2 linked regions of the Homo sapiens genome follow. The protein of the gene in region 1 interacts with the protein of each later gene in a pairwise test. Each region holds a gene or a part of one and is shown on either strand. Other genes may lie near its edges. The genes, in order: C16orf54 and CLDN11.

Region 1 (15,372 bases):
CTATAAAAGTTAGACTCTCTTAGATCAAAGAAGTTGAAACCTTGAGCTCAGAGCAATAATGTAAGGTATCTCTGTCCAGCATAAAAATGTTGCTTTTTCTGTCACACAGAGGCCAAAAGGCAAAAACAAAAACAAAATAAAAAAAACACCTGCTAAAGTTCTTTCCTGCCCACATTTGCAAATCAAACCAGATCAGCAAACAAAACATAGACGTGTTACTAGTTCCAGGGCACTTAGATATTTTGTATTTCTTATACAATTTAGCCAATCCTGGCTAAAATGTAAACAATTGAAAATTTAACCCTAAACTCATTTGAAACTGATAAAAAACAGTTTTTTGAGACAGTCTCACTCTCATGCCCAGGCTGGAGTGCACTGGCACAAACACAGCTCAACCTCCTGAGCTCAAGCAGTTTTCCTGCCTCGACCTCCCCAGTTGAATCCTGAGCTGGGACTACAGGCATGCACCACTATGCCCAGGTAATTTTCTCATTTTTTGTACAGATGAGGTCTCACTTTGTTGCCCAGTCTGGTCTTGAGCTCATGGGTTTAAGCAATCCTCCCACACCGGCCTCCCAAAGTGCTGGGGTTACAGGCACCAGCCACCTCAATCAGCCGAAACTGAAAAAAAAATTTTTTTTCTTTCTTTTTTTTTTTTTTGAGGTAGAGTCTCGCTCTGTCGGCCAGGCTGAAGTGCAGTGGCATGATCTCAGCTCACAGCAACCTCCGTCTCCCAGGCTCAAGCAATTCTGCCTCAGCCTCCCGAGTAGCTGGGATTACAGGCACACGTGGGCCACCACACTTGGCTACTTTTTTGTATTTTTTTTAGTAGAGATGGAGTTTCACTATGAGCCAGGATGATCTCGATCTCCTGACCTCGTGATCCGCCCACCTTGGCCTCCCAAAGTGCTGGGATTACAGGCATGAGCCACCGTGCCCTGCCGTAAATCTTTAATCTTTAATAAATAAGCTGGTTTTAAAACTATTGGTAAAATAGGCTAGGCTTGGTGGCTCACACCTGTAATCCCAGCACTTTGGAAGGGTGAGGTGGGTGGATCACCTGAGGTCAGGAGTTTGAGATCAGCCTGGCCAACATGAGGAAACCTTGTCTCTACTAAAAATACAAAAAAGGTAGCTGGGTGTGGAGGCAAGTGCCTGTAATCCCAGCTACTTGGGAGGCTGAGGCAGGAGAATTGTTTGAACCCAGGACGCAGAGGTTGCAGTGAGCTGAGATCATGCCACTGCACTCCAGCTGGCGTGACCAAGGAAAACTCTCTTTAAAAAAAAAAAAAAAAAAAAAAAAAAGACAAAGAAAAAAAGTATTGGTAAAATAAAAATAGAAATGTCTTCAGAATTATCAGCATACATTTTTGCTTGGGTTTACTGGCCAGACAGTTTTATATTTATCTCTACTAGATGTTTTAAGGTGTCAGGGTCTGACACAAGGGTTATAAGACTACAAATCCAGTTTTAAACAAAATGATCTGTGTTTGTATAATTTTTTGTTGTTGTTAGAGACAGGGTCTTGCTCTGCTGTCCAGGTAGCATGATATAACTCACTGTAACCTCGAACTCCTGGGCTCAAGTGATCCTCTGCCTCAGCCTCTTGAGTAGCTAGGACTACAGGCACATGGAACCATGCCCAGCTAATTTTTTTTTTTTTTTGGTAGAGATGGAGTCTCACTGTGTTGCCCAGGCTGGTCTTGAACTACTATCTTCAAGCAATCCTCCTGCCTCCCAAAGTGTTTAGATTAGGCTAGGTATGGTGGCTTATGCCTATAATCCCAGAACTTCAGGACACCGAGGTGGGAGGTCTGCTCCAGGCCAGGAGTTTGAGACCAGCCTGGGGAACACAGCAAGACCCCATCTCTATTTAAATTAAAATGGCCGGGCGCAGTGGCTCACACCTGTAATCCCAGCACTTTGGGAGGCCGAGGCGGGCAGATCACCTGAGGTCAGGAGTTGGAGAGCAGCCTGACCAACATGGCAAAACCCCATCTCTACCAAAAATACAAAAATTAGCTGGGCATGGTGACGGGCACCTGTAATCCCAGCTACTTGGGAGGCTGAAGCAGGAGAATCGCCTGAACCTGGAAGGCAGAGGTTGTAGTGAACCGAGATCATGCCATTGCACTCCAGCCTGGGCAACAGAGCAAGACTCCGTCTCAAAAAAAAAAAAAAATAGCCAGGCATGGTGGTGCGCACCTGTAATCCCAGCTACTCAGGAGGCTGAGGCAGGAGAATCATTTGAACCCAGGAGGTGGAGGTTGCAGTGAGCTGAGATCAAGCCACTGCCCTCCAGCCTGGGCAACAGAGTGAGACTCTGTCTAAAAACAAATTTTTTTAAATTAATTAAAAGAAAAAGTGACGCAGGGCATGGTGGCTCATGCCTGTAATCCCAGCACTTTGGGAGGCTGAAGGGGGTGGATCACCAGGTCAGGAGTTTGAGACCAACATAGTGAAACCCCATCTCTACTAAAAATACAAAAATTAGCCAGGCATGGTGGCACACACCTGTAATCCTAGCTACTCGGGAGGCTGAGGCAGGAGAATTGCTTGAACCTGGGAGGCGGAGGTTGCAGTGAGCTGAGATCATGCCACTGCACTCCAGCCTGGGTGACAGAGTGAGACTCCGTCTCAAAAAAAAAAAAAAAAAAAAAAAAAGAAAAAGAAAAAGTGTTGCTAGGCACAGTAGCTCACGCCTGTAATATCAGCACTTTGAGAGGCTGAGGCGGATGGATCATGAGGTCAGGAGTTTGAGACCAGCCCAGCCAACATGGTGAAACTCTGTCTAAAGATAAAAAAAAAAAAAAAAAAAATAGCCGGGCGTGGTGGTGCATGCCTGTAATCCCAGCCACTCGGGAGGCTGATGCAGGAGAATTACTTGAACCTGGGAGGCGGAGGTTGCAGTGAGCCGAGATTGTGCCATTGCCCTCCAGCCTGGGCAACAGGGCAAGACTCCGTCTCAAAAAAAAAAGAAAAAAGAAAAAGAAAAAGTGTGATTATTGCGATTACAGATCTGAGCCACCACGCCCAGCCTGTGTAATTTTTGATAAGTAATACTAATTTAATATTTTTCATTTAGTAAAAACATCTATATCGGCCGGGCATGGTGGTTTAGTAATCGCAGCACTTTGGGAGGCCGACGTGGGTGGATCACCTGAGGTCAGGAGTTCAAGACTAGCCTGGACAACATAGTGAAACCCCGTCTCTACTAAAAATACAAAAATTAGCCAGGTGTGGTGGCAGGAGCCTGTAGTCCCAGCTACTCGGGGGGCTGAGGCAGGAGAATCGCTTGAACCTGGAGGCAGAGGTTGCAGTGAGCCGAGACTACACTACTGCACTCCAGCCTAGGAGACAGAGCGAGATTCCACCTCAAAAAAAAAAAAAAAAAAAACTGTATCTCCTGAGTTATCAAGAAATTACTCATATGTTTAAGCTTCTTACTTAGGTGAATACCTGATTGTCACAGGCTATAAAAATGATTAACAGGGAAGTAACTTGAAATAATGACTATCCTTGCCTAATATCTCAGTTTTCATAAATAATCTAGGGAAACTGTTAAAAATAAAGTATGTAATGGATAATTTATTATAAATAAATTTTTCATGTAATTTTAAATCTTCTATTATGTTCTATTAAATTAACTATTATTCATTAGATGTGTGTATTATTTCCAAGTAAGAAGAAATAACTGAAACAAATTGCTGAACATAAATGTTTTTGGCTGGCTTCTTAAATTTTATAGAATGACTAAATATACTTGGTCTTTTTTTGTTGTTGAGACAGTGTCTTGCTTTGTTTCCCAGGCTGGAGTGTAGTGGTACACCCATAGCTCACTGCAGCCTTGAACTCCTGAGCTCAAGTGATCCTCCCCTCTCAGCCTCCCAAGTAACTAAGACTACAAGCACATGCCATCATGCCTGGCTAATTTTTTGATTTTTTGTAGAAATGGGAGTCTTGCTATGTTACCCAGGCTGGTCTCAAACTCTTGCCCTCAAGCAATCCTCCTGCTTCAGTCTCCCAAAATTGTGGGATTACAAACATGAGCCACCTTGCCTGGCCTTAAACTTTTTTTTTTTTTTTTTGAGACAGAGTCTCGCTCTGTTGTCCAGGGTGGAGTGCAGTGGCATGATCACAGCTTACTGCAACCTCTTCCTCCTGGGTTCAAGCAATTCTCCTGCCTCAGCCTCCTGAGTAGCTGGGATTACAGGCATGTGTCACCACGCCCAGCTAATTTTTTTTTTTTTCCCCAGACAGAGTCTTGCCCTGTCACCCAGGCTGGAGTGCAGTGGCATGATCCCGGCCCACTACAACCTCCACCTCCTGGGTTCAAGCGATTCTCCTGCCTCAGCCTCTCAAGTAGCTGGGACTACAGGCACCTGCCACCAAACCCGGCTAATTTTTGTATTTCTAGTAGAGACAGGGTTTCACCATGTTGGCCAAGTTGGTGTCGAACTCCTGACCTCATGATCCGCCTGCTTTGGCCTCCCAAAGTGCTGGAATTACAGGTGTGAGTCACCTCACCCGGCCTTTTTTGGTATGTTTAGTAGAGACGGGGTTTCGCCATGTTGGTCAGGCTGGCCTCAAACTCCCGACCTTAGGTGATCCACCTGTCTTGGCCTCCCAAAGTGCTGGGATTACAGGCATGAACCATTGTGTAGGGCCTAAACTTGTACGTGATGAAAGAATCAAAACAGCCAGTGATATCTTAGTAAGAAAAAACCATGTCTGATCTTTCCAGTTTTTAATAATGTTAACTCTTCTAAAAGTTTGTTTAAAAAGATTGATTAAAAGAGCACATACAAGTTTTCAGGTTTTGTTTATTTTGATTTTTTTTTTTTTTACAATAAATCATTGTTTGATTGTAGGGAAACACACATAACTGCCAGGCACGGTGGTACACACCTGTAATCCCAGCTACTTGGATGGCTGAAGCAGAAGAATATCTTGAACCCGGGAGGCGGAGGTTGCAGTGAGCCAAGATTGCGTCACCGCACTCCAGCCTGGGCAACAGAGACAGACTCCGTCTCAAAAGAAAAAAAGAAATACATAACATAAAATAACATCAAAGTTACTATCATTTTTCTATATTGACCTCTAGAACAGCCAGAAAGAACATCTTAGTTATTTTTAAGCGTGTTGTTCGCTGGCACTAACTTCAGGTTTGATTTTAAGGCTTGTAATCTGGTAAAATTCTAGCCTCCTCAGGTTTCTGCGAGTGTCCTGAGCCTTAGCTTCCCCCTGTAACTGCCAAAGGGGTTCACCTTGCCCGCTGCCTACACATAGCCGATTCATCAAGACAGCAAAATTGCAATAAAGAGTAATTCACACAGAGCCAGCTGTGCAGGAGACCGGAGTTTTTTTTTTTTTTTTTTTTTTTTTTTTGACGGTTTTGCTCTTTTTGCCCAGGCTGGAGTACAATGGTGCCACCTCGGCTCACTGCAACCTCCGCCTCCAGGGTTTAAGTGATTCTCCTGCCTCAGCCTCCTGAGTAGCTGGGATTACAGGCACTTGCCACCACACCTGGCTAATTTTGTATTTTTAGTAGAGACAGTGTTTTCTCCATGTTGGTCACGCTGGTCTCAAACTCCCAACCTAAGGTGATCCACCGGCCTTGGCCTCCCAAATTGCTGAAATTACAGGCGTGAGCCACTGTGTCCAGCCAGGAGTTTTATTATTACTCAAATCAGTCTCCCTGAGCATTCGGGAAACAGAGGGTTTTTTTGTTTGTTTTTGTTTTGTTTTTTTGAGATGGAGTCTTGCTCTGTCGCCCAGGCTTGAGGGCAGTGGCGCAATCTCGGCTCACTGCAAGCTCCGCCTCCCAGGTTCATGCCATTCTCCCGCCTCAGCCTCCCAAGTAGCTGGGAGTAGCTGGGACTAGCTGGGACTACAGGCATCCGCCAACACGCCTAATAAATTTTTTGTATTTTTAGTAGAGATGGGGTTTCACCGTGTTAGCCAGGATGGTCTCGATCTCCTTGTGTCCAGAATTGGCGGGTTCTTGGTCTCACTGACTTCAAGAATGAAGCTGCGGACCCTCACGGTGAGTGTTTCAGTTCTTAAAGGCGGCATGTCCGGAGTTTGTTCCTTCTGATGTTCGGACGTGTTCCGAGTTTCTTCCTTCTGGTGGGTTCGTGGTCTCGCTGGCCTCTGGCGTGAAGCTGCAGACCTTCACGATGTTACAGCTCATAAAGGCAGTGCAGACCCAGGATAAGCAGCAGCAAGATTTATTGGAAAGATCAAAAGAACAAAGCTTCCTATGTGGAAGGGTACGCCGAGTTGCCACTGCTGGCTCTGGCAGCCTGCTTTTATTGCCTTATCTGGCCCCACCCACATCCTGCTGATTGGCCCATTTTACAGAGAGCCAACTGGTCTGTTTTATAGAGAGCTGATTGGTCCATTTTGACAGGGTGCTGATTGGTGTGTTTACAAACCTTGAGCTAGACACAGAGTGCTGATTGGTGTATTTACAATCCCTTAGCTAGACATAAAGGTTCTCCAAGTGCCCACTAGACTCAAGAGCCCAGCTGGCTTCACCTAGTGGACCTAGCACCTGGGCTGCAGGTGGAGCTGCCCACCAATCCTGTGCCTGCACTCCTCAGCCCTTGGGCGGTTGATGGGACCAGGCCCCGCAGAGCAGGGGGCGGTGCAGGAGCCCAGGCAGGGGGACGCTTGGGCATGGCGGGCTGCAGGTCCCAAGCCCTGCCCCGTGGGGAGGCAGCTGAGGCCTGCGAGAATTCAAGTGCACCTGTGGGCTGGCACTGCTGGGGGACCTGGCGCACCCTCTGCAGCTGCTGGTCTGGGTGCTAAGCCCCTCACTGCCTGGGGCCAATGGCGCCAGCCGGCCTCTCTGAGTGCGGGGCCCACCGAGCCCACGCCCACCCGGAACTCATGCTGGCCCTCGAGCGTGGCCCGCAGCCCCAGTTCCCGTCCGCGCCTCTCCCTCCACACCTCTGGCAAGCAGAGGGAGCGGGCTCCCGCCTCGGCCAGCCCAGAGAGGGGCTCCCACAGTGCAGCGGCGGGCTGAAGGGCTCCTCAAGCGCAGGGAGAGTTGGCGTGGAGGCCGAGGAGGCGCCCAGAGTGAGTGAGGGCTGCCAGCACGCTGTCACCTCTCATCCTGACCTTGTGATCTGCCTGTCTGGTCCTCCCAAAGTGCTGGGATCTGGGAGTGCAGATTGGTCAGAGATGAAATCATCAGGAGTCAGAGCTGTCTTCTTGCAGAGTCAGTTCTGGGTGGGGGCCACAAGATCAGATGAGCCAGTTTATTGATCTGGGTGGTGCCAGCTGATCCATCAAGTGCAGGGTCTGCAAAATATCTCAAGCACTGATGTTAGGAGCAGTTTAGGGAGGGTCAGAATCTTGTAGCCTCCAGCTGCATGACTCCTAAACCATAATTTCTAATCCTATGGCTAGTGTTAGTCTAGTCCCCAGGCAAGAAGGTCTGCTTTGGGAAAGGGCTGTTACTGTCTTTGTTTAAACTATAAACTACAAACTAAGTTTCTCCCAAAGTTAGTTCAGCCTACGCCCAGGAATAAACAAAGACAGCTTGGAGGTTAGAAGCAAGGTGGAGTCAGTTAAGTTAGATCTCTTTCTTTGCAAAGGCGGTTTCCCCCGGACTCTCCATCTCCAGCTCCTCCCAGCAGGGCTCAAAACCACCAGGATGGGGCAGTCTGACGGAGACTGTCTTTTCATTCATTTATTTATTTAATTTATTTATTTTGAGACAGAGTCTCGCTCTGTTGCCCAGGCTGGAGTGGAATGGCACGATCTCGGCTCACTGCACCGGGTTCAAGCGATTCTCCTGCCTCAGCCTCCTGAGTAGTTGGGGTCATAGGCGTGCGGCACCACGCCCGGCTAATTTTTGTATTTTTAGTAGAGACGGGGTTTTGCCATGTTGGCCAGGCTGCTCCCAAACTCCTGACCTCAGGTGATCCACCCGCCTCGGTCTCCCAAAGTGCTGGGATTACAGGCATGAGCCACCTCGCCCAGCCCAGGGATTTCTATCTATTCTTCCACCACCCTGGCCACTACATGCTCACCCACACATACATTGGTCATGCGACTTTGGTCATGAAATCTCTTTTCTTTAAGCCTTACTTTTGTCATCTGTGGATGAGTCAAACTAGAGAATCTCAGAAAGTCACCTGGACTCCAGAGCCTGATGACATCTTGTCACACTCTGCTCCAGGCTCCTCCCACCCTCAGCAGCAGGAAAGAGGGACAGACATGAGGATGGTCAGGGTTTTGGAAACAGGCCCACGCCTGTTTTTATACCCTGGACTCCTCTCAGAGGCTTGACATTTTTGTTACCCAAGCCTCACCTCACTGATATTTTCCAACCAAAATGGGGGCTAAATGGTCTGAAGAGAGAGAGACTTATGTTAATTAAAAGTATGAGGCAGGGGCCAGTGTGGTAGCTCACACCTGTAATCCCAGCACTTTGGGAGGCTGAGGCAGGAGGATCTCTTGAGGCCAGGAGCTTGAGACCAGCCTGGGCAACATAGCAAGAGCCCATCTCTACCAGAAAAAAAAAAAAAAGGTGTGAAGCAAGCTGGCCAAGCAGGGGGTGCCTGTGGGGGCTGCATGGCAGGAGCAGATCTGGGGAGGCACCGTGGATAAGACAAGGCAGGATGGGGTGGGGCATCCTCCCAGGAGGAACGGGGGAGGCACCATGGTTCTCTGGGAATGTACGGGCTAAAGTCCCAGTGTCCTATTTCTTTTTCTTTTCTTTTCTTTTCTTTTTTTTTAAGACGGAGTCTCACTCTGTTGCCCAGGCTGGAGTGTGGTGGCACGATCTCAGCTCACTGCAACCTCCGAGTCCCGGGTTCAAGCGATTCTCCCTGCCTCAGCCGCCTGAGCAGCTGAGATTACAAGTGCCCGTCACCATGCCCAGCTAATTTTTGTATTTTTCAGTAGAGATGGGGTTTCGCCATGTTGGCAGGCTGGTCTCGAACTCCTGACCTCAGGTGACTTGCCCACCTTGACCTCCCAAAATGCTGGGATTACAGGGGTGAGCCACTGTGCCTGGCCCCGGCGTCCTCTTTCTCAGCTTTTCGGTGAATGTTCTGGGGCTCAGGGCCTGGCTATGGGGTGACACTAAGTTCAACAGAACCATTGCCCATTCCAGCCCCACCTTACCCCAGGAAAAGCCTCCTCACCGCAGTGACCACATCCCCTTGGGTTGCTTTGGAAACAAACACTCCCCAGGGGCAGACGAGTTGGGGCACAGTTGCCCAGCAACAGGCGGTGCCCTCCCTTCCGCCTTCATCCGAGGCCGGGCCTCTACGTCTGAGAGGCGGACCGCCCTGCACCCTCCAAGCCTGCACCTCTTAGTCCAGCACCAGGAAGAGTGGCTCTAGGAGGGAGAGGAGCCCAGGGACTGACCCAAGGTGAGTTGAGGGGTGCAGGAGGCCCCCTGCAGATGGAGGATGTGGGGGACAGAGAGGTGTGCAGAGACAAACGAGAGATAGAGACAGGCCAGAGCCTGGGCAAAGCTGGGGAGCCCAGGAGGGGTGCAGAGGCGCCTCCGGAGGCCTGGCCCGGCCCGGCCCGGCAGCAGATTCCGTGGAGCCTATGAGAGCAAGATCAAGTCCGAGGAGAATGGTGAGGGGCGAAGGAGCCTCAAGGGGCCAGCGGAGGTGCTGGCGGCAGGCGGTGGGGGAGACACACGCAGGGGAGCCAGTGGGAGGGGAGGTTCTCATTTCTTCACCCACCACTTCCTCTCTAGGTCTGAGCAAGACTTGAGGGGGCCGAGTGGGGAGGAAAGAAGCCCTTGAGACCTTTCTTGTCTGAGGCACCCTGGGGTCTGGGAGGGAAATGGGGATTCTGGAAAGGCCTGGAGAGCCAGGCAGGAGGGCCTGGCTGTGCCCCGAGGTAGGCTGCCTGTCCTCCCACCCCACCTGGCTCACGCTTACCCTTTCTGGTCCCTCTTGCTTCTCTGTCTCTCCAGAATGTTCTTTTTCATTTTTGAGAAAGGGTCTTGCTCTATTGCCCAGGCTGGAGGACAGTGGTGCAATCTGGGGTCACTGCAGCTTCAAACTCCTGGGCTCAAGTAATCCTCCCACCTCAGCTTCCTGTGTAGCTGGGACTACAGGTGTGAGCCACCACACCCAGCTAGTTTTTAAATTATTTTTAGAGATGAGGTTTCACTGTGTGTCCAGGCTGGTCTTGAACTCCTGGGCTCAAGTGATCCTCCCGCCTCGACCTCTCAAAGTGCTGGGATTCCAGGCATGAGCCCCCATGCCCAGCCCTTCTCCCAGGCTTTCCTGGACACCTGCTGCCTCTCTCTCATCTTGGTTGTGCCCCCTCTGCCTCATTTACTTCCTCTTCTCACCCCTGTGTCTCTCAGATGCCGTTGACTCCAGAGCCGCCCTCTGGGCGCGTGGAGGGGCCCCCCGCATGGGAAGCAGCCCCATGGCCCTCACTGCCCTGTGGGCCCTGCATCCCCATCATGCTGGTCCTGGCCACCCTGGCTGCGCTCTTCATCCTCACCACCGCTGTGTTGGCTGAACGCCTGTTCCGCCGTGCTCTCCGCCCAGACCCCAGCCACCGTGCACCCACCCTGGTGTGGCGCCCAGGAGGAGAGCTGTGGATTGAGCCCATGGGCACCGCCCGAGAGCGCTCTGAGGACTGGTATGGCTCTGCGGTCCCCCTGCTGACAGATCGGGCCCCTGAGCCTCCCACCCAGGTGGGCACTTTGGAGGCCCGAGCAACAGCCCCACCTGCCCCCTCAGCCCCAAATTCTGCTCCCAGCAACTTGGGCCCCCAGACCGTACTGGAGGTCCCAGCCCGGAGCACCTTCTGGGGGCCCCAGCCCTGGGAGGGGAGGCCCCCCGCCACAGGCCTGGTGAGCTGGGCTGAACCCGAGCAGAGGCCAGAGGCCAGCGTCCAGTTTGGGAGCCCCCAGGCCAGGAGGCAGCGGCCAGGGAGCCCGGATCCTGAGTGGGGCCTCCAGCCACGGGTCACCTTGGAGCAGATCTCAGCTTTCTGGAAGCGTGAAGGCCGGACCAGTGTGGGGTTCTGAATCCCCAGGGTTCCCCAGAGATCCCCGAGGCAGGCCTTGCCTCAGTGGGACCGGGGACCCCAGGATCCAGCATTAGGATTGAGACTGCCCCAGCGAAGATGCCCTTCCCAGGCTCCTTCCACCTGGAGTCCCCCTCCCCGGGTCTGGGTGGTGGCCAGGCTATGTGGACTAGGGGAAGCCCAGCAGTGCCTCTGCTCAGCTACCTGGGCTGTGGCTCAGAGACCTGGGGGTGGAGCCAATGCCAGGCCAGAAGCCTTCAAGATCGCATCCAGATGAAGAACCCAAGGTACTAGATAGTCAGGAAATGGCATCGACCAGCCACCTCCACCTTCTTTCAGTGTTTACCGAAGCCACCAATACCAAAGAGAACGGGTCCTGCGGTGCTGAACAGCCTCGGTGTGGCGATGACAGCTGGCAGGAGATGACAGGAATCCAGTTTCCCAGAGCCACAAATCCTGTTCTCCTTGGCCACTCACCCACTGTGAGGTCCTCTAGGAAAATACACAAAGAGAGGACCAGACCAGGCAGAGGAACATTTTGTTTCATATGAACTGTGGCTTTGACCCCCAAACTGCAAGGAGGAACTTGCTGGGCCAAGCTGCAGCGGCGCTGTCTTGCTGGAGTGGGGACCTAGAGTCAGAGAAAACCCACAGGCTCCTCTGCCCATTCTCCTCCATCTGCACACGTCTCAGCCTCGGACCCTCACCACTCCATGGTGAGGAAGGCCATGGCCAGGGGAAACTGAGTTTCATCCAATGTGGAGAGGAGCGTTGTCCTAGAGCAGGGCAACTCCCAAACTGTGACCTCTGATCATCGTCCCTTCCAGCTTGCTGGAGTGTCCAGAGAGACAGATTTGCCACAAGCTAGGCTTACTTATAATGCTCCACCCTACAGAAATGGGACCCCAAGTACCCAATCTTCCCTTTAGGAGAGGCAGGCAGGTGGGTGAGCAGCAGATGTAGTTTCCATTTCCCTGGGGGTTTAATTTTCCAAACTTTGTCTTTTTTTTTTTTTTTTTTTTTTTTTTGAGACAGAATCTCAACTCTGTCACCCAGACTGGAGTGCAGTGGCACAATCTCAACTCACTACAGCCTCGAACTCCTAGGCTCAAGCGATCCTCCCACCTCAACCTCTAGAATAGCTGGGACTGCAGGTGCATACCACCACGCCCAGCTAATTTTTGTATTTTTTTTGTAGAGACACGGTCTCACCATACTGCCTGGGCAGGTTTCCAACTCCTGGGCTCAAGTGATCCAGCAGCCTTAGCCTCCCAAAATGCTGGGATTACAGGTATGAGCACTGCACCCGGCCACTTTTTTTTGTTTTTGAAACAGGGTCTCACTCTGTTGCCCAGGCTGGACTACAGTGGCACAATCTCAGCTCACTGCGGCCTTGAACTCCTGGGCTTAAGTGATCCTCCCACCTCAGTCTCCCTAGTAGGTGGAACTACAGGCATGTACCACCACACCTGGCTATTTTTTTTTTTTAGAGACAGGGTCTTGCTATGTTGCCCAGGCTGGTCTTTAATTCCTGGGCTCGAGAGAGCCACTCATCCCCATCTCTCAGAGTGTTGGGATTACAGCCATGAGCCACCATGCCCGGCCAAACTTCAGCCTTGAATATTAGTGATTTTGCCATATTAGTTTACCATCTGTACAATTATTTGCTTTATATTTTTCTTTAAATTGGCTCATTATTCACTTAATGAAATTATTGCAACAGGAATCTTTTGTATCACTTCTGTAAATGGAAAACCAGTCTCATTTGCCATCAATAGAAGGTAAAACATGAAAATAAATACAATGTAAACAAAATTGTTAAGATCTAAATTCTGTTCCCTGCTGGAAGCATTGACCTAAAACTCTGCTCTTTGTTTTTGTTGTTGTTTTTGAGACGGAGTCTCGCTCTGTTGCCCAGGCTGCAGTGTGATGGCGCGATCTCCGCTCACTGCAACCTCCGCCTCTGGGTTTAAGCGATTCTCCTGCCTCAGCTTCCCAAGTAGCTGGGATTACAGGCGCCTGCCACCATGCCTGGCTAATTTTTGTATTTTTAGTAGAGACAGGGTTTTACCATGCTGGCCAGGCTGGTCTCGAACTCCTGACCTCATGATCTGCCCGCTTCAGCCTCCCAAAGTGCTGGGATTACAGGTGTGAGCCACCGCGCCCGGCACTGCTCTTTGTTAACAAGAAAAGGGAATGTTGATCTGCAAGTCAGAAAGTGTTAGATACTCTAGCACCACAATGAGACCTTCTGGAAGTGCCAAGGCAGACAGACAGCCCCGCACAGGGGGCGGGATGCTGTGTTGTTTAATGCTGTCCACGAAGTTCACCCACAGCCAGGAAACACTCACTTCTCCCTGCACAGTGGGCTAAGGAGCACTTGGAGCCTCTCATCCAATCCCTTGACCTCCCCTCTGATTTTTGGGATGTTGGAAGTTGACAGAGCAGCCAGAAACCCCAGGCAGAGGGACCGAGAGCCTAGTCCAGTCTCTTCTCCCAGGTGTAGTCACTGGCCAGCATCCTAAGCACTGTTTCTGAGCTGGGCACTGGGAGGGGAGGAATAAGACCTGGGCCCTGCCCTCAAGGAGCTCACAGTCTCTCTAGCGGCAGAGTAGGGAACAAAGGTAGGGGTGAGCTAAGATATGGACACAAAACTGACACCAGGGAGAGACCAGGGCCCTGTCCCATCTCTATCACTCATGAGCTGGGTAATGACATTCCTTATCATCACCATCAGTTGACAGCACTGGGTTGTGGGGACTCTGCCCACGAGGAGTGAACAGACCTGAGAGAAACAGAAGATACAGGCAGGTGTTCAGAGGTCAGATGCTTCCATGCCATGGGTTCAGGAAAGGCACTGCAGTGTGGAAGAAATGCAGGGACAAGGCCCCAGTTCATGATCTGCCTCCATCACCTTATTCACTTAGAGACTTCAGAAAACAGAGTTTTGTATTATGGGGCCTCATGTGCTTTTTTCATGTACAAAAAGACAGCTGAAAGTTGAACAAGATGTTCTATTGGGACTTTTCTAGCTGTGACATTTGAGAATGAGTGAAGGGGGCCAGCCCCTCCACACCTGTGGGTATTTCTTGTCAGGTGGGGCAAGAGACTGAGAAAAGAAATAAGATGCAGAGACAAAGTATAGAGAGAGAACAGTGGGCCTAGGGGACCAGCGCTCAGCATACGGAGGACCTGTGCGGGCACTGGTCTCTGAGTTCCCTTAGTATTTATTGATCACTATCTCTACTATCTCAGTGAGGCGGATATGGCAGGACTATAGGGTAATGGTAGGGAGAGGGTCAGCAGGAAAACGTGAGCAAAGGTCTCTGTGTCATAAATAAGTTTAAGGAAACGTGCTGTGCCTCGATGTGCACGTAGGTCAGATTTATGTTTGACTTTACACAAACATCTCAGAGCAGTAAAGAGCAGTATTGCCGCCAGCATGTCTCACCTCCAGCCATAAGGTAGTTTTCTCCTATCTCAGTAAATAGAATGTATGATCGGGCCTTACACCGAGACATTCCGTTCCCAGGGACGAGCAGGACACAGATGCCTTCCTCTTATCTCAACGGCAAAGAGGCCTTCCTCTTTCACTAATCCTCCTCAGCACAGACCCTTTACGGTGTTGGGCTGGGGGACAGTCAGGTCTTCCCCTTCCCACAAGGCCATATCTCAGGCTGTCTCAGTGGGGAGAAACCTTGGACAATACCCAGGCTTTCTTGGGCAGAGGTCCCTGCAGCCTTCCGCAGTGCATTCTGTCCCTAGATACTCGATAATGGAGAATGGCAATGACTTTTACCAGGCATATTGCCTGCAAACACATTTTTAACAAGGTGCATCCTGCACAGCCCTAAATCCATTAAACCTTGAGTCAACACAGCACATGTTTCTGCGAGCACAGGGTTGGGACTAGGGTTACAGATTAACAGCATCTCAAGGCAGAATTTTTCTTAGTACAGAACAAAATGGAGTTTCTTATGTCTTCTTCTTTCTACAGAGACACAGTAACAGTCAGATCTCTCTTTCTTTCCCCCACAGTGAGTAAAATGAAAGACGGTTGGATGGATGGATGGATGGATGGATGGATAAATAAATGAATGGATGGAAGACTAGATGGATGGATGAATGGATGGATGGATGGATGAATAAATGGATGGATGGATAGATGGACAGACGGACAGATGGATGGATGAATAGATGGATGGATGGATGGATGGATGGGAGAATGGATAGGTGAAGAGAATGGATGTGTGGATGAGTGGATGTATAGATAAATGGATGCATTGATACATGGATTTCTGCATGCGATCTTCCTGAGGCAGAGTCTAACTTGCTATCTGCAGAGTC
Region 2 (15,714 bases), on another chromosome or scaffold:
TTGCAGTGAGCTGAGATCGAGCCACTGCACTCCAGCCCAGGTGACAGAGCGAGACTCTTTCTCAAAATAAATAAATAAATAAACAAACAAAGTATTGATAATAATATAATAGTACCTACATCTCTGTAATAGAATTCTACTGAAGATTACATTAGTTAATTTATTTAGTGCTTAAAACAGTGCCTATACCAAATCCTCAAAAAAGGTTAGTTGTTATCATTGGTGTTCTTTGTCTGTCTCAGTGCAGCGCTTTCATCTTCAGGTGTCCTAGGTGATTTTCTCCTAACCATGTGCTTTCATTCACATTGGCTGTGGCCCTAACCCAGACTAAACTAAGACTCAGGCTTCCTCTCTTTGCTGTCTCCCCAGAGGCTGCTGTCCTCATGGATCCTGCCCCTAAATTGTTGGACCCCATCTCCTGCCTCACCCACAGTGCCCTGGGCATCCTTCCCCAACTGTCCATCATTGCTTAAAAGGCATCTCTCCAGCCCTCAGGGTTCCTGGAGGGCAGACACCTGCCTTGGTATTCACGGAGTTAACACAGTGCCCACAACAGATCATGGAAACAATTGCGAATCAAGGAATAAGAGAACTGAAAAATAGAAGAGTAGAGCAAAACTACATGAACTTTATCCTGTCAAGTAAAATGCCAAGTAAAAACTGTATTAAGAAACAGATTACAATATGTGTCACATTTATTTAGAATAAATCTGACAAGATACTGGGAGAATTTCACAGACAAATTTGTTTCACTTTCAAATGTAATGTTTCTCATTAAAACTCTCCCTCCTCTTAAAAAAGGTGGGGGGGGTCACATTTATTACCCTCCCTTTTTTGCTCAGAAGGAACTAGTACTAGTGGCCTGGGTGAGGCAGAGTTCATAGCAAAGCCAGGAATCTAGCCGACATCTGCCTCACACACCACGACCCTCACGTGCAAAAAGGCCTAACTTCAACGCTGTCTCTTAGCAAGGAACGTTTTGCCAGAATTCGGACTTCACAAGGGCCCTCTTCCAGCACTGCCCATCTCAGCTCCTTCAGAATTAAAGATAATCAGTCAAGTGTCTACTGACTTGAAGATCTCCAGAAAGGAGCTCCAGGAAGTCTGAGGCCCATCCCCTGACCCAGCCGTCCGCCTCTGCGGCTTGTAGAGAGCCAGTACTCACACAAAGCAGGCAGTCAACTGGCAATGCAGGTTCTGAAATCCATGGCACTGGCTGTCCACATGCTACAGTGCCAAGGCCATGTCCGGACACCAAAAGATAGGGACAGAGGACTGTTCCTGCCTCCACCCAAAGTATGAGGGAGGGGGAAGGCAGGAAGGACTAGCGCCGCCCCCCACCCCCCCCCCACCCCCAGAGTATGCACTCCCCTCTGGAGGACAGCCTTTGTTCTCTGAAAACAAACCACTTGGCACTGAATGCTCAGTAAAGTTAATTTCAGGAGAAGAAAACAAAGTTAATTTTATGCTTCAAAGATCCCTACAAATACCATGCCCAGCTTTTAATAAAATACTATAGGTACCATTCATGAAGCATCTACTATCTCAAAGGAGATTACATTTCTTATCTCATTTAATCCTCAAATAATCGTGAAAGATGGGTGGTTGATCTGATTTTAACTTTTAAAAGAAGACAACCGTGGTTCACTGAGGCTAGCAATTTGTCCCCCCTCACCCAGATTGTGAGTCCTGGATGCCGGAGGCTGGCCCGGGTCTGCCAACACCAGCATTAGCCAAAGCTGAGTCTAGATCTGCGTTCGTTGACCTCTGGCCTTCTGAAAGTTCAAAATGAAGGAAAGGATAGCGTAAGGCAAACCAGGCAAGCACTGCCCGCAGCTATTGTGTGCCAGAGGCCATGCCAGGTCCAGAAGAGGAAGCAAAGAGAATAACAGGACGCCATCTCTATCTTCAAGGAATTTAAAACGTAGTGGGAGAACTTCACTCACGAACAATCAACAAAAAACAAGATAAAATGTGCCTTTGTGAGGATAAGAGCCAAGTACTAGGCAGCAAGGAGAAAGGAGGGATTCAGATTCCGACTGCGAGGACCGGAAATAGGGCGTGCTTGGAGGAGGCTTAAGGGGCGAGCACAGTCTTATCTGACTGGCGGCTTCAGGGACAGGTTTCTCCCCATCTTGAGGAAACCGGGAAAATCCTTTAAGTGAGCACAATCCACGAAGGCTGGGGGACAGAAGCCCACCTTGTAGGGACATGCCTTGGGGGTAGAGCAGAGATTCCAGCAGAAAACCAAGGGGGTGCCCGCGACCTCGCCATTGCCCAACCCATTGGTTTAAATCTGAATTGAGGCTGTCGCCCAAAATGTTTCCACAGGACACATGTGAAAATGTGGCCCCTGGCCGGCGCTAGGCTGTCAATTTTTACCTCCCCTTCCCAATCTGAGACACGCTGGAGGGGTGGCGGCGAGCGACCCTCGGCGGCGCGCTCCGTATCTCCCCAGTGGAGTCCGCCCTCCGAGGAGCGCCCGCTCGTCCCTATCCAACCCAGCGGCGCGGAGCGGGAGCCGGCGTCACCGCAGCCCCGCAGTCTGACGCGCCCACAGCAGGGGCGGGGGTAGCGGGGGCAGCGGAGATGGCCCTGGGCACGTGCGGGAATCAACGTGACATTTCCCAAACCAGGCAGCCCAGAGAGCCCTGGACGTGAATTGCTCAGCGGCTGCGCGGACGGAGCTAGGAGGGCTCTAACCTGGCCGGGGGCGCTTCGCCCATCCCATGAGGACCGAGAAACTCAGCCTGAGCCGGTTCGATTCTCCTGTCAGCTTGTGTTACACGCTCCTTCTCACCTCTGCGGGCGGAACCTAACGCGAAGGCTCGGCGCCCCGGGGGAGGCCGGGCGGGAGCGGGAAGCACTTCGGGAAGCGGACGGTGGAAGGATGCGGGCTGGGACCGCAGTAATTAACACGGACTCAGTTCCTATTAGGTGTTCCGGTTTGTTCATTCTCAAAGGGACCCGGCCAGTGTTACCACCGGCCACATTGCCACTATTATCTCAAATTCCAGATAAGAATACTGCGGCCTAGAGAAGTTAAGTTCGGGGCTGCCTAATTCTTTTACAACAAGGTGGGACTAGGGATGTCAAAAACGTACCCAAAGGTCTTCAAGCCCCCAAAATGTCTCTGTGACGCCGTCTAATATCCCGCTCTCTACCCAGAGGATAAGGATTTGGGAGCCGCCGCCAAGCTCGGGTCCTTACCCGGCAGGATGAGGATGTCCACCAGGGGCTTGCAGTGGTACAGCCCCGTGGCCATGACGCAGTCGGCCCACAGCCCCTTGGAGCCCAGCTCATCCAGCTTGCGGCAGGTGGGGATGGTGTAGCCGCAGGTCACCACCCAGTCATTGGTGGAGGTGGTCACGATGACCCCGATCCAGCCCACGAAGCTCGTGACGAAGCCCACCACCTGCAGGCACGTGGCCACCATGGTGGCCGCCAGGATGTCCCCGTGCCTCGCCCCTCACGGCTGTGCCTGGGCCTGGGCTGGACAGTGCCTGCCCAGGTACGTCTCCCACGCTCGCGAGCCGCTGGAGGGCGACGGCCCGAGGCGGGACACTGGAGGTGGAGGTGGGCGCCGGAGGCTGCGAGCTCAGCGGCGAAGGGCGCACGGCGGGGACAGCAGCGCTGCTGGGCAGCGCGCCCCCGCCCCCTCTTTAAGCCCCGCGGCTCCGGCCGGCGAGCACCAATCGGCGGCAGCCCCGGGGCGCGCCGGCCAATCGCGGGGCGGGGCCGGGAGGGAAGCGTGAAGGGGAGCAGAGTAACCCCAGGGGGGCCATTGGGCCGCCCCACCCCGTCCGCAGCGCAGTCCGGCGATGCAAAGTAAAACAATTCCATCCAGGTCCAGAGAAACGGAGAGCGCAAAGAGGGCGTGCGTTTGTCGAGAGTTCTGTTTTCCTGCGACTGGTTTCTCTTCTTATAGCCCCTCTCTCATCTCAGTCTCTGGGTGTCCATTCCGCTCCGACCCTCCTCAGCTCCTCCCTGCTCGCTCCTTCTTCCCTGCTGCGAGCACTCCAAGGGCGCTCGGTACAGTCCCCCGACGACCCAGGATTGTGACAGACTGAAAAGTGCAGTAGGGACAAACGCGAGGCATTCAGTACACACAGTTACTAGAAGAAAGAAAACGATGCTTTTCAGTGGTTGAACATCATCAGCGGCAAACGTGGCCATAATAATCAACAATAGCAACTCACATTTATCGAGCTGTGTTATATATTATGCAGATGCATTTTACATGCATTAGCTCATTTAATCCTCATAACAGCCTTTGAGGTAGGAACAATTGTCAATGACACATACTAGGCCGGGAGTGGTGGCTCACACCTGTAATCCCAGAACTTTGGGAGGCCAAGGTGGGCGGATCACCTAAGGTCAGGAGTTCGAGACCAGCCTGACCAACATGGTGAAACTCCATCTCTACAGAAAATACAAAAATGAGCCGGGCATGGTGGCGCATGCCTGTAACCCCAGCTGCTTGGGAGGCTGAGGCAGGAGAATAACTTGAAGGAGGTTGCAGTGCGCCAAGATCGTGCCACTGCACTCCAGCCTGGGCAACTGAGTGAGACAACGTCTCAAAAGCAAACAACAACAACAACAACAAATTACACGCACTAGCCATAGAGAAACAGCACAAGAAGGTTGAGTTGCCCAAGTTCACGCAGCTAGGAAGGGGTAGATACCATGGGCCCATCTCATCCCTTTCACGAACTGTTTCTAGGAAACTGTCCTGATCAGTCTGAAAATTCCTAAGGGGTTCATGTGTCCCATTTTAGACGCATTAAAAGCTACAGCAGACTTCTCTGGCTCACTGTAAATAAATTAATATCTGTACCCCACTGAGAAAACTGCCTAGCCCAGAATGAGCGCTCTGATAGTGTAAAGCTATCATCATCACCATCAACATCATTAAGCCACCATGCATACAAATAGGCCGCATTATTTGCACCTTTTTATTCAGATAGGGAAGTCTTCCTTGAGCTGCATTTACATTCAACAGTTTTCACTCCCTTTGAAACATTTGGCTTATCTTATTATCTCCTTCTATCCATTCCCTTGGACCACTGCCTCCTCACCAATCATGAGACTTAAAGGTGTGAGGATTTCAGAAAGCACAAAAACTTCCTGCTCAGCGTTCTAAAATCTAAGATACTAACCATAAATCATAGGTACTGAGCTTTCCCAAAGCCAGCCCTAATGCTGGTTATCAGTGCAATCACCATGTCTTCTAGGAAAGCCTGGACTTGAGGAGACAATTACATTTCCCTGGAGACCCCAAGGAAATCAAGTGCACACACAGAAATGGCTCTTGTAATTGATAGCAGAGTGTCAAGTACAAGGGTCACAGTAATCACCCAGGAAGCACAGTGACTAAGAACACAGTCCAACTGCCCAAGTTCAAATCTTGGCTCCATCACTTTCTGGCTGTGAGACCAAGTTACTTTATCATTCTTGGCCTCCTTTTCTCATTTGTAAAATAAGGATGAAAACTGTACCTACCTCATAGACTTTTTTTTTTATTCTGTGAGCTATTAGGTTGGTGCAAAGTATTAAACATAACGGCAAAAACCACGATTACTTTTATACCAACCTAGTAATATATATGCAGAACTTAAAGTAACATTGGTACAAAGTAAGTATTCAGAAACCCCTGGCTAATGTGATGCTTCAGAACGTTGTTGTTGTTGTTGCCGTTGTTGTTGTTTTGAGACAAGATCTGTGTCACCCTGTCTACAGTTCAGTGGCGTGATCACAGCTCATTGTAGCCTTGAACCCCGGGACTCAAGTGATCCTCCCACCTCAGCCTCCTGAGTAGCTAGGACTACAGGCATGAGTCACTATGCCCAGCTAATCTTTCTTATTATTAGTAGAGAGAAGGTCTCACTATGTTGCCCAAGCTGGTCTTGAACTCCTGCGCTCAAGCAATTCACCTGCCTTGGCCTCCCAAAGTGCTGGGATTATAATAGGCATGAGCCAGCAGGCTTGGCCTGATTTTGCATTCTTATGTATCCTCCCTATATTCGTATGAGTTTGATTTGTGGAAACTATTCCATAGGAGTATGTTCTGAGTGAGCCATTGTGTTTGGGGGACGTTTCATCACCAGGGTCTATGGACTGAATGTTTTCAGATATTTCCTTATAACACTTTTTTAAAATGGCTTTTGTGCTAAATACAACATAAAACATAAAACCCAAGCAACATCAACTTCTTGTAAAAGCACTCATGGAATCTGCACTCTTATGCCTCCATTAGAATTTGACATTCGAACCATGAAACTTCAACCAATCAGAATATAATAATGCCCAGATCATCCACAGGTCACACACACATAGTGTTTGTAAAGCCAGATTTCAGAACTCAGGCACTAAATGGTAAAAAAAAAAAAAAAAAAAAAAAAAAATTGCCAAGTTGTTAAGATTGCTGTCTTGGACTGGGACCTCCTAGGTTCACATTCTGTCTTCACCACTTGAGCTGGCCCTTCACCTACGTGACTCTCAGGTTCTTCATGTACAAAGTGAGATAGTAAATGCCCCCTTAGGGCATGGTGAGGATCAAGTGAGATAATTTATATGAAGTACTCAGCATAGTGCCCAGCACTGCTGGACACTCATTCACATTAGACACTGTTAGAATGATTTATAGGAAGCGTAGATTAATTGGAAGTGGGAGTTCCCTTTGGTAGAGATACAAGCTAAATAATTAGGGTATTATTATTATCCAATGAAAGCAATTGTAAAGCCAGTGTCTAATCCATTCCAGCATAGATGTACAAAAGGCCACTTGAGGAGGCCACAAGATGTAACCTGTTTGAATTCATTAGCCCAAGGTAAAGAGAGGGCTTGTCCCTTCAAAAGGAAGGCAGGAAGCCATGGAAGCAAAGAGAACTGGGGGCCAAGAGGCAGAGAGACGCAATGGGAATCCTTGACTATTTTCAGAGTCTGTGGCTCACAGACTCTGAGGATGCGGTGCCATTAGCAAGGCTCTGTAGGGTGGGGAAGTCCCTCAAGCTATCTTAGCTGAGACTTTTGCTAAAATCATCCACATTGCGGCCAGGCACAGTGGCTCACCCCTGTAATCCCATCACTTTGGGAGACCAAGGCGGGTGGATAACGAGGTCAGGAGTTCGAGACCAGTCTGGCCAACATGGTGAAACCCCGTCTCGGGGTTTCAAAATTATACAAAAATTAGCTGGGCGTGGTGGCAGGTGCCTGTAATCCCAGCTACTCAAGAGGCTGAGGCAGGAGAATCTCTTGAACCTGGGAGGCGGAGGTTGCAGTGAGCCGAGATCGTGCCATTGCACTCCAGCCTGGGTGACAAGAGCAAGACTCCATATCAAATATATATATATATATATATATACAAAATTAGCCAGGCATGGTGGCACATGCCTGTAATCCCAGCTACTCAGGAGGCTGAGGCAGGAGAATCGCTTGAACCCGGGAGGCGGAGGTTGCAGTGAGCCGAGATCATGCCATTGCACTCCAGCCTGGGCAACAAGAGCAAACTCTGTCTCAAAAAAAAAAAAAATATCATCCACATTGCTTGGCTGTGGCTCTCCTCCCAAACCCTCTTTGTGATTAAGACCTGACTTCCCATGCAGCACAACTTACTAAACTGATATTCTGGGTCTGTCACAGTCTCAGGTACCCTTTAGTTGTAAGAGTCAGTCTCTCAAGGTCTAATCACCCTCAGATAAACGTCAATCGTTGGTCCCCAGACCATCCAGACAAAGGTCTTCTCAGTTAATTTTTTCTCAGCAAACTCTGCCATGCCATCTTTTCACATTTCCACAGTACATATCAGAACTAGGAAGGTAGAGCTGAGACCTGATTTCAGGTCTTCTAACCCTAAGTCCAATGTTTTTTTCCATTATAAAAAAAAATATAAGATGAGTCATATGCTCTGTGGCTTGAGCGTAAGTTCGTTCCTTCATCTTACTCTTATTCAAAGGTATTTGAAGGGGAGGATTAGGGGATTAGGGCCAGTAAGGCCCTAAAACCCAGATGTGAACTAAACAAAGGAAAAGGCCTGGTTAACTGTTCTTCTACCATTTACACCCAAAAATAGTCAATCAAACTAAAATGCTATTCAGATACAGCACGAATGCATACCACAAAGCAGATGTGACTGCTGGCAAGCATCAAAACCCCACATTGAGAGCAAAGTTTGGGCCAACGAGTAGGCTCTTAGCGCCTGCTAGTGGTTATCTTTTATCATTGCATGGCTGGTAAAAAACTGAAGGGAGCTGTAACTTGTAGAGAAACATGATTAACCTCAGCTTTGCACATTCCAAATGAGGGATAATTAAACCCAACTGGAATGTGCATTTCTCTGTGGAAGTTTTCTTCATATATTTTAAAAAGATGATTCACCTCTTTAGAAAACCAAACATGAAAACACAGGACATATATGAAATTACTTAAGCAAGATTACTCAATTAAAAAATCAAGTACTTCTACTAGGCCCTTATTTACTTATTTATTTATTTTGTTAGAGACAGAGTCTTGCTGTCCCCCTGGAGGCTGAAGTGTGGCGGCACAAACATAGCTCACTGTAACCTCGAACTCTGGGCCCAAGTGATTCTCCCACCTCAGCCTCCTGAATAGCTAGGACTATAGGTGCACACCACCACACCTGGCTAATTTTTTTATTGTTGTATTTTTTATAGAGATGGGGGAGGGGTCTCTGTATTGCCCAGGCTGGTCTCAAACTCTTGGCCTCAAAAGATACCCCCATCTCAGCTCCCCATCACATCCGGCCTGGGGACCTCTTTTTAAGGGATAAATTCCTCTGGTGGATTTTAAATATTTGATGATACACACATACACACATTTTTAGAAATACTGTAGAACAAATTCATAGCATAAAAAGAATATCAAACATAGGCTTTAAAAATGAAATGACCTGTAAGTTTCAGGATTTTGTCTATTTTGTTCATCACCGAAACTGTTGAATGTGGCACAGTACGTGGCATACACAAAGGCACTCAATACATACCTGTTGAATGGAGCTGACTGAAGGGTTGAAAGGGAGAGATTGAATTTGCAAGCCTACAAGTTCCACTAGGATGAGAACCTGAAGACACCATGCAGAAGAAATCAGGAGGTGGTGATTGGAGCTGGTCTAGGGAGTGGGCAAGAGGCAGAGTACAGCTCTTTGTGGTCTCGGGTACCCACCTGCCGCCCACAGGAAAGTGAAGCCTTCAGCAGTAGAAGGGATGTGTACTGCTCAGGTCTCAAACAGAAAAGTCTCTAATTACCTAGACACGCTGGCCTCAATGCATATACTTCCAGCAGAGAAGAGTGGCACCTTCACAATTCACTTCCACCTGGAGATTCAAATTCAGCTACGAGAGGGGAAAAAATTCCTTTTCAGGAAATTTCTCCAACAATCACTGTGGAAAACACACCAGGTTCTCTAGAACAGACAACAGGGCTCCAGGTGCTCCCCCATATCTTGCCCTTTCTTCACAGTGCAACTAGAATATCATTCCTTCAGAAGCCATTTCATCCCAAATTTCCCTTCCTTCAGCTTGTAGATAGAGTAAAATAATGAAAAACTTGTACCTGGAGTTTTAGGCTTGAATCCTCTCAGAGTGTTTTCTCTCTTCAAGTAGCAATTCTATTCATCCACTTCTCTGCCAAGAGTCTCAGACTGCATTAAATGATATCCTGTCTAATTCAACCTATGAGATCATAGTTCCTGAAGAAGAGCAAAAGTCCTTATTTTTAGCCCAAATTCAACTAGCGATTACATTTTCAGAAAACATAGTAGTAATAGAGTATATAAGTGCTGAAGTGAAAAATAAGGAAATAATCTAACTAAAAAGCCACATCTTTAAATTCTCTATCTTAATAATTAAGGGGCAGGGCACGGTGGCTCACGCCTGTAATCCTAGCACTTTGGGAGGCCAAGGCAGGCAGGTCACCTGAGGTCAGGAGTTCGAGACCAGCCTGGCCAACATGGTGAAACCCTGTCTCTACTAAAAATACAAAAAATAGCTCAGTGTGATGGTGGGTGCCTGTAATCCCAGCTACTTGGGAGGCTGAGGCACCAGAATCATTTGAATCCAGGAGGCAGAGGTTGCAGTGAGCTAAGATCACGCCACTGCACTCCACCCTGGGCAACAGAGTGAGACTCTGGCTCCCAATAATAATAATAATAATAAAGAACAGGTGTTTGTCGGCCAGGCGCAGTGGTTCACACCTGTAATCCTAGCACTTTGGGAGGCTGAGGCGGGCGAATCATGAGGTCAGGAGTTCAAGACCAGCCTGGCCAACATGGTGAAACCCTGTCTCTACTAAAAATACAAAAAAATAGCTGGGCGTAGTGGGGAGCGCCTGTAAACCCAGCTACTCAGGAAGCTGAGGCAGGAGAATCACTTGAATCCGGGAGGCGGAGGTTGCAGTGAGCTGAGATCGCGCCACTGCATTCCGGCCCAGGTGACAGAGTAAAACTCTGTCTCAAAAAAAAAAAAAAAAAAAAAAAAAAAGAACAGGTGTTTGCATTTAGCTACCTAGGACATGGAAACACAGAGCAATTTGTTGACTTTTAAGTCTTTTACTGAAAACATGAATAATAAAATGATCAAAACAATCATGTGTCCTCTTATTATTCATTCAATATATAATAAAAAATCACCAATCATGTTATCAATGCTACACTGTTCCATAAAAAACTGTCTACAAGAGAAGCCTGTGTCTCAATGACACCAATTGTTTTCTTTTTGTTTCTTATGTAAATAAAGATTCTATTTTATTAAATTATCCTGAATGAGGACATTGTTGGGCACCAAGATCCAAAGCAGACAACAGAGTAGAGTAGTAAGGGGAATAGGGTGGAATCCTGGCTCCATCACTAACTAGTTGTGTGATCTCGAGCAGGCTGTTTAACTTTTTTGTTTAGTAACTGCATTTAATAACTAATATTCTATTTCCTCACCAGAAAAATTGTGTTAACAACGGTAACTGGCTGGGCACAGTAGCTCATGTCTGTAATCCCAGCGCTTTGGGAGGCTGAGACAGGAAGATTGCTTGATGCCAGGAGTTTCAGACCAGCCTCAGCAATCTGTCTCTACAAAAATAAAAATAGCTACTAATAGTCCTTGCTACTGAGGAGGCTAAGGCAGAAGGATCACTTGAGCCCACAAGTTGGAGGTTACAACGTGCTGTGATCGCATCACTGCGCCCCATGCTGGACAACAGATGGAGACTCTGTCTCAAAACAAAAAACAACAGTAACTATTTCATAATAGCTGTTCGAATGTTAGAATTAAATGTGTTCCTAAATGTACAATTATTGGAGTAGTGTCTAATACATAGTAAGTACTCAATAACTATTGGCTTCTATACCAAAAAATAATCAGTTGGTTGTAAACCTGTTTGTTTGTTTTGTGACAGGGTCTCCTTCTGTAGCCCAGGCTGGAGTGCAGTGGCGGGCTATCACAGCTCACTGCAGCCTTGACACTCCCTGCCCACCAAGCTCAAGTGATCCTCCCACCTCATCCTCTTGAGCAGCTATGGCCATATGTGCCCACAACCATGGCCGGCTAATTTTTTTATCATTTGTAGAGACAGGGTCTTACTATGTGGTCTCGAACTCCTGGCTTCAACTGATCTGTAAACACAATCTTAACCTTCATATTACAGAGCAGTGAAACTCAAAATGTTTCAAAATCTGGTAACATATGAATAAGAATTTGAAAGGAAAGAAAATGTGATCTCACCTACAAGTACAGCATATGGCCCTTTAAACAGCTAAAATAATTCTAGCCATCCCTTCTCTTCGCTGTCAAGATTTAACAACTGCATACAATTCCTTTTTCATTCTGATGATGGTATTTTTGCAGAAATTAGCTTGGCCACTGGAGGGCTCTTGCAGTCTCTCATTAGTTCTAGATAAATGATTTGATAAAAATTAACTTTACTGACAGACAAAGGATGAAGTTTACAAAATACCAATAGCACGGCTGACATGCCCCATTTCAAAAACAATTTGCAATATATAGCAAAAGGATTTAAAATATGTACATTCTTTGATCCAGCTTCTAAAAATGTATCTAATAAACTAATTATAAAGTATTCAATTGTTTTTATTTACATTTCAATTAACTGTTCAATTTAGAAGTAAATTATATGTTATAAAATATGAATCTTGGCCATGCACTGTGGCTCATACCTGTAATTCCAGTACTTTGGGAGGCCGAGGCAGGCAGATCACTTGAGGCCAGGAGTTCAAGACCAGCCTAGGCAACGTAGAGAAACCGTGTCTACTAAAAATACAAAAATTAGCTGGGTGTGGTAGCGTGGGCCTGTAGCCCCAGATAGTCCAGAGACTGAGGCAGAGAATCGCTTGAACCCAGGAGGCGGAGGTTGCAGTGAGCAGAGATCGCACCACTGCACTCCAGCCTGGGCAAGAGAGCAAGATCATGTCTCAAAAAAAATAAATAAAATAAAACATGAATTTGAAAATACAAATTGCTAAATGTACTTCCAAAATATCTGTACAGTTGGAGATTGGTTTTTAAAATATATATAAATATATTTGAAAAATATACACCGAAATGTTAACAACTTTTTTGGGTAGTGAGATTGAGAGTTCTTCCTCTCTTTTGTTCTTTAGGCATTTTCCAGTTCTCCATAATGAACGTGAATTCTTTTGATCATGAGTAAAAAAAAGTTTTAAATTTTAAAATTTAAAATATTTTAAGTATTTTTAAATATTCAGTATTATATAAGGATCTATAAAGAGTACAGGCATACCTCAGAGATAATGTGGGTTCAGTTCCAGATCACCACAATAAAGCAAATATCACAGCAAGGCAAGTCATGCAAATTATTTGGCTTCCCAGTACATGCAAAAGTTATGTTTACGCTATACTGTAATCTATTAAGTGTAGAATAGCAGTAAGACTTTTAAAAATGTACATACCAGCCAGGCACGGTGGCTCATGCCTGTAATCCCAGCACTTTGGGAGGCCGAGGCAGGCCTATCACAATGTCAGGAGTTCAAGACCAGCCTGGCCAATATGGTGAAACTCTGTCTCTGCTAAAAATATGAAAATTAGCTGGGCGTGGTGGCACACGCCTGTAGTCCCAGCTGCTTAGGAGGCTGAGGCAGGAGAATTGCTTGAACCCGGGAGGTGGAGCTTGCAGTGAGCAGAGATCGTGACACTGCACTCCAGCCTGAGTGACAGAGCGAGACTCCATCTCAAAAAAAAAGAAAAGAAAAGAAAGAGGAAGAAAAATGTATATTCCTTAATTTTAAAATACTTTATTGCTTAAAAAAATGCTAATAATGATATGAACCTTCAGCAAGTCAGAATCTTTTTGGTGGTGCAGGGTCTTGCCTCTATGTTGATGTCTGCTGACTGATAAGGGTGGTGGTTGCTGAAGGTTGAGGTGGCTGTGGCAATTTCTTTTTTTCTTTCTTTTTTTTTTTTTTTTTGAGACGGAGTTACACTCTTGTTGCCCAGGCTGGAGTGCAGTGGTGCCATCTTGGCTCACCACAACCTCCGCCTCCTGGGTTCAAGCAATTCTCCTGCCTCAGCCTCCCAAGTAGCTGGGATTACAGGCATGCACCACCACGCATGGCTAATTTTGTATTTTTAGAGGAGACGGGGTTTCTCCATGTTGGTCAGGCTGGTCTCAAACTCCCGACCTCAGGTGATTTGCCTGCCTTGGCCTCCCAAAGTGTTGGGATTACGGGCGTGAGCCACTGCAACCAGCCGGCAATTTCTTAAAATAAGAAAACAATGCCTGTAATCCCAGCACTTTAGGAGGCCAAGGCAGGCTGATCACCTGAGGTTGGGAGTTCGAGACTAGCCTGGCCAACATGGCAAAACCCTGTCTCTACTAAAAATACAAGAATTAGCCAGCGTGGTGGTGGGTGCCTGTAATCCCAGCTACTCGAGAGGCTGAGGCAAGAGGGGAATCACTTAAGCCTGGGAGGTGGAGGTTGCAGTAAGCCAAGATTGTACCACTGCACTCCAACCTGGATGACAAAGTGAGACTCTATCTCAAAAAAAAAAAAAAATTTCTCTGTAGCATGCGGTGCTATTTGATAGCATTTTACCTACAGTAAAACTTCTTTCAATGATATTCCCAGCATCTTCACCAGGAGTATATTCCATCTCAAGAAACCACTTTCTTTGTTCATCCATAAGAAGCAACTCTGCATCTGTCCAAATTTTATCCTGTGATTGCAGCAATTCAGTCACATCTAATTCTAGTTCTTTTACTATTTTCACCACATCTGTGGTGACTACCTCCACTAAGGTTTTGAATCCCTCAAAGTCATGCAGGAGGGTTGGACTCTACTTCTTAACTTGTAAGTGTTGATATTTTGACCTCCTCCCATGAATCATGGGTGTTCTTAACGTCATCTAAAATGATGAATCCTTTCCAGAGGTTTTGTGTTTATTTTGCCCAGATCCAACAGAGGAATCACTATCTATAGCAGCTATAACCTTACGAAATCTTTTTCTTAAATAATAAAACTTGAGGCCAGGCGCGGTGGCTCATGCCTGTAATCCCAGCACTTTGGGAGGCCAAGGCAGGTGGATCACGAGGTCAGGTGTTCAAGACCAGCCTGACCAATATGGTGAAACCCTGTCTCCACTAAAAATACAAAAATTAGCTGGGCGTGGTGGTACATGCCTATAATCCCAGATACTCAGGAGACTGAAGCAGAATAATTGCTTGAATCTGGGAGGCATAGGTTGCAGTGAGCCGAGATCACGCCACTGCACTCCAGCCTGGGTGACAGAGCGAGATGCCACCTCAAAAAATAATAATAATAAAACTTGAAAATCAGAATGACTCCTTGATTCATGGACTTCAGAATGTATGTTGTGTAAGCAGGCATGAAAACAACATTAATCTCCTTGTACATCTCCATCAGAGCTCTTGGGTGACCAGATACATTGTCAATGAGTAGTGATATTTTGAAAGAAACATTGTTTTCTGAGCAGTAAGTCTCAACACTGGGCCTAAAATATTTTGTAAATCATGCTGTAAACAGATGTGCTGTCATCCAGGCTTTGTTGTAGCATTATAGAGCACAGGCACAGTAGATTTAGCATAGTTCTCAAGGATCCCGGGATTTTCAGAATGGTAAATAAGCATTGACTTCAACATAAAGTCAGCAGCTGCATTCGCCCCTAAAGGGAGTCAGGCTCTCTTTTGAAGCTTTGAAACCAGGCATTGACTTCTCTCTAGCAATAAAAGTCCTAGATGGCATCTTCTTCTTCAGATAAGATAAGGTTGTTTCATCTATATTGAAAATCGGTTGTTTGGTATAGTCAACTTTATCAATGATCATAGCTGGATCTTCTGGATAACTTGCTGCAGTTTCTGCATAGGTACTTACTGTTTCACCTTGCACTTTTATATTATGGAGATGGATTCTTTCCTTAAACCTTTGTGTGTTCACTAGAGTTGTACTTTTAATTTCCTTCAAAAACTTTTCGTTTGCATTCACAGCTTGGCTAACTGTTTGGCACAAGAGGCCCAGCTTTCAGCGTATCATGCCATGTTGCAACATTCCTTCCTCACTAAGCTTAACCATTTTTAAGTTTTTATTTAAAATAAGAGAGTTATATATTTTATTATTTATTTTTTTTAATTTTTTTATTTTTTGAGATGGAGTCTCACTCTGTCACCCAGGCTGGAGTGCAATGACGCAATCTCAGCTCACTGCAACCTCCACCT

Evidence for each region.
Region 2: the proteins of C16orf54 (region 1) and CLDN11 interact in binary tests that used the Homo sapiens proteins (3 or more experiments, as listed by UniProt).

The regions. Positions count from the first base shown.
Region 1 is NC_000016.10:29,739,931-29,755,302, reverse strand, and holds C16orf54 (transmembrane protein C16orf54), read left to right. Parts: upstream 1-9,312; 5' UTR 9,313-9,392; exon of another isoform or gene 9,393-9,576; coding exon of another isoform or gene 9,577-9,606; intron 9,607-9,679; exon of another isoform or gene 9,680-9,819; coding exon of another isoform or gene 9,820-9,876; intron 9,877-9,917; exon of another isoform or gene 9,918-10,056; intron 10,057-10,351; coding exon 10,352-11,026; 3' UTR 11,027-11,364; coding exon of another isoform or gene 11,365-11,413; 3' UTR 11,414-12,840; downstream 12,841-15,372.
Region 2 is NC_000003.12:170,406,789-170,422,502, reverse strand, and holds the start of CLDN11 (claudin-11), read right to left. Parts: upstream 3,636-15,714; 5' UTR 3,437-3,635; coding exon 3,211-3,436; intron 1,278-3,210; exon of another isoform or gene 1,166-1,277; intron 1-1,165. UniProt on the Homo sapiens protein: Plays a major role in tight junction-specific obliteration of the intercellular space, through calcium-independent cell-adhesion activity.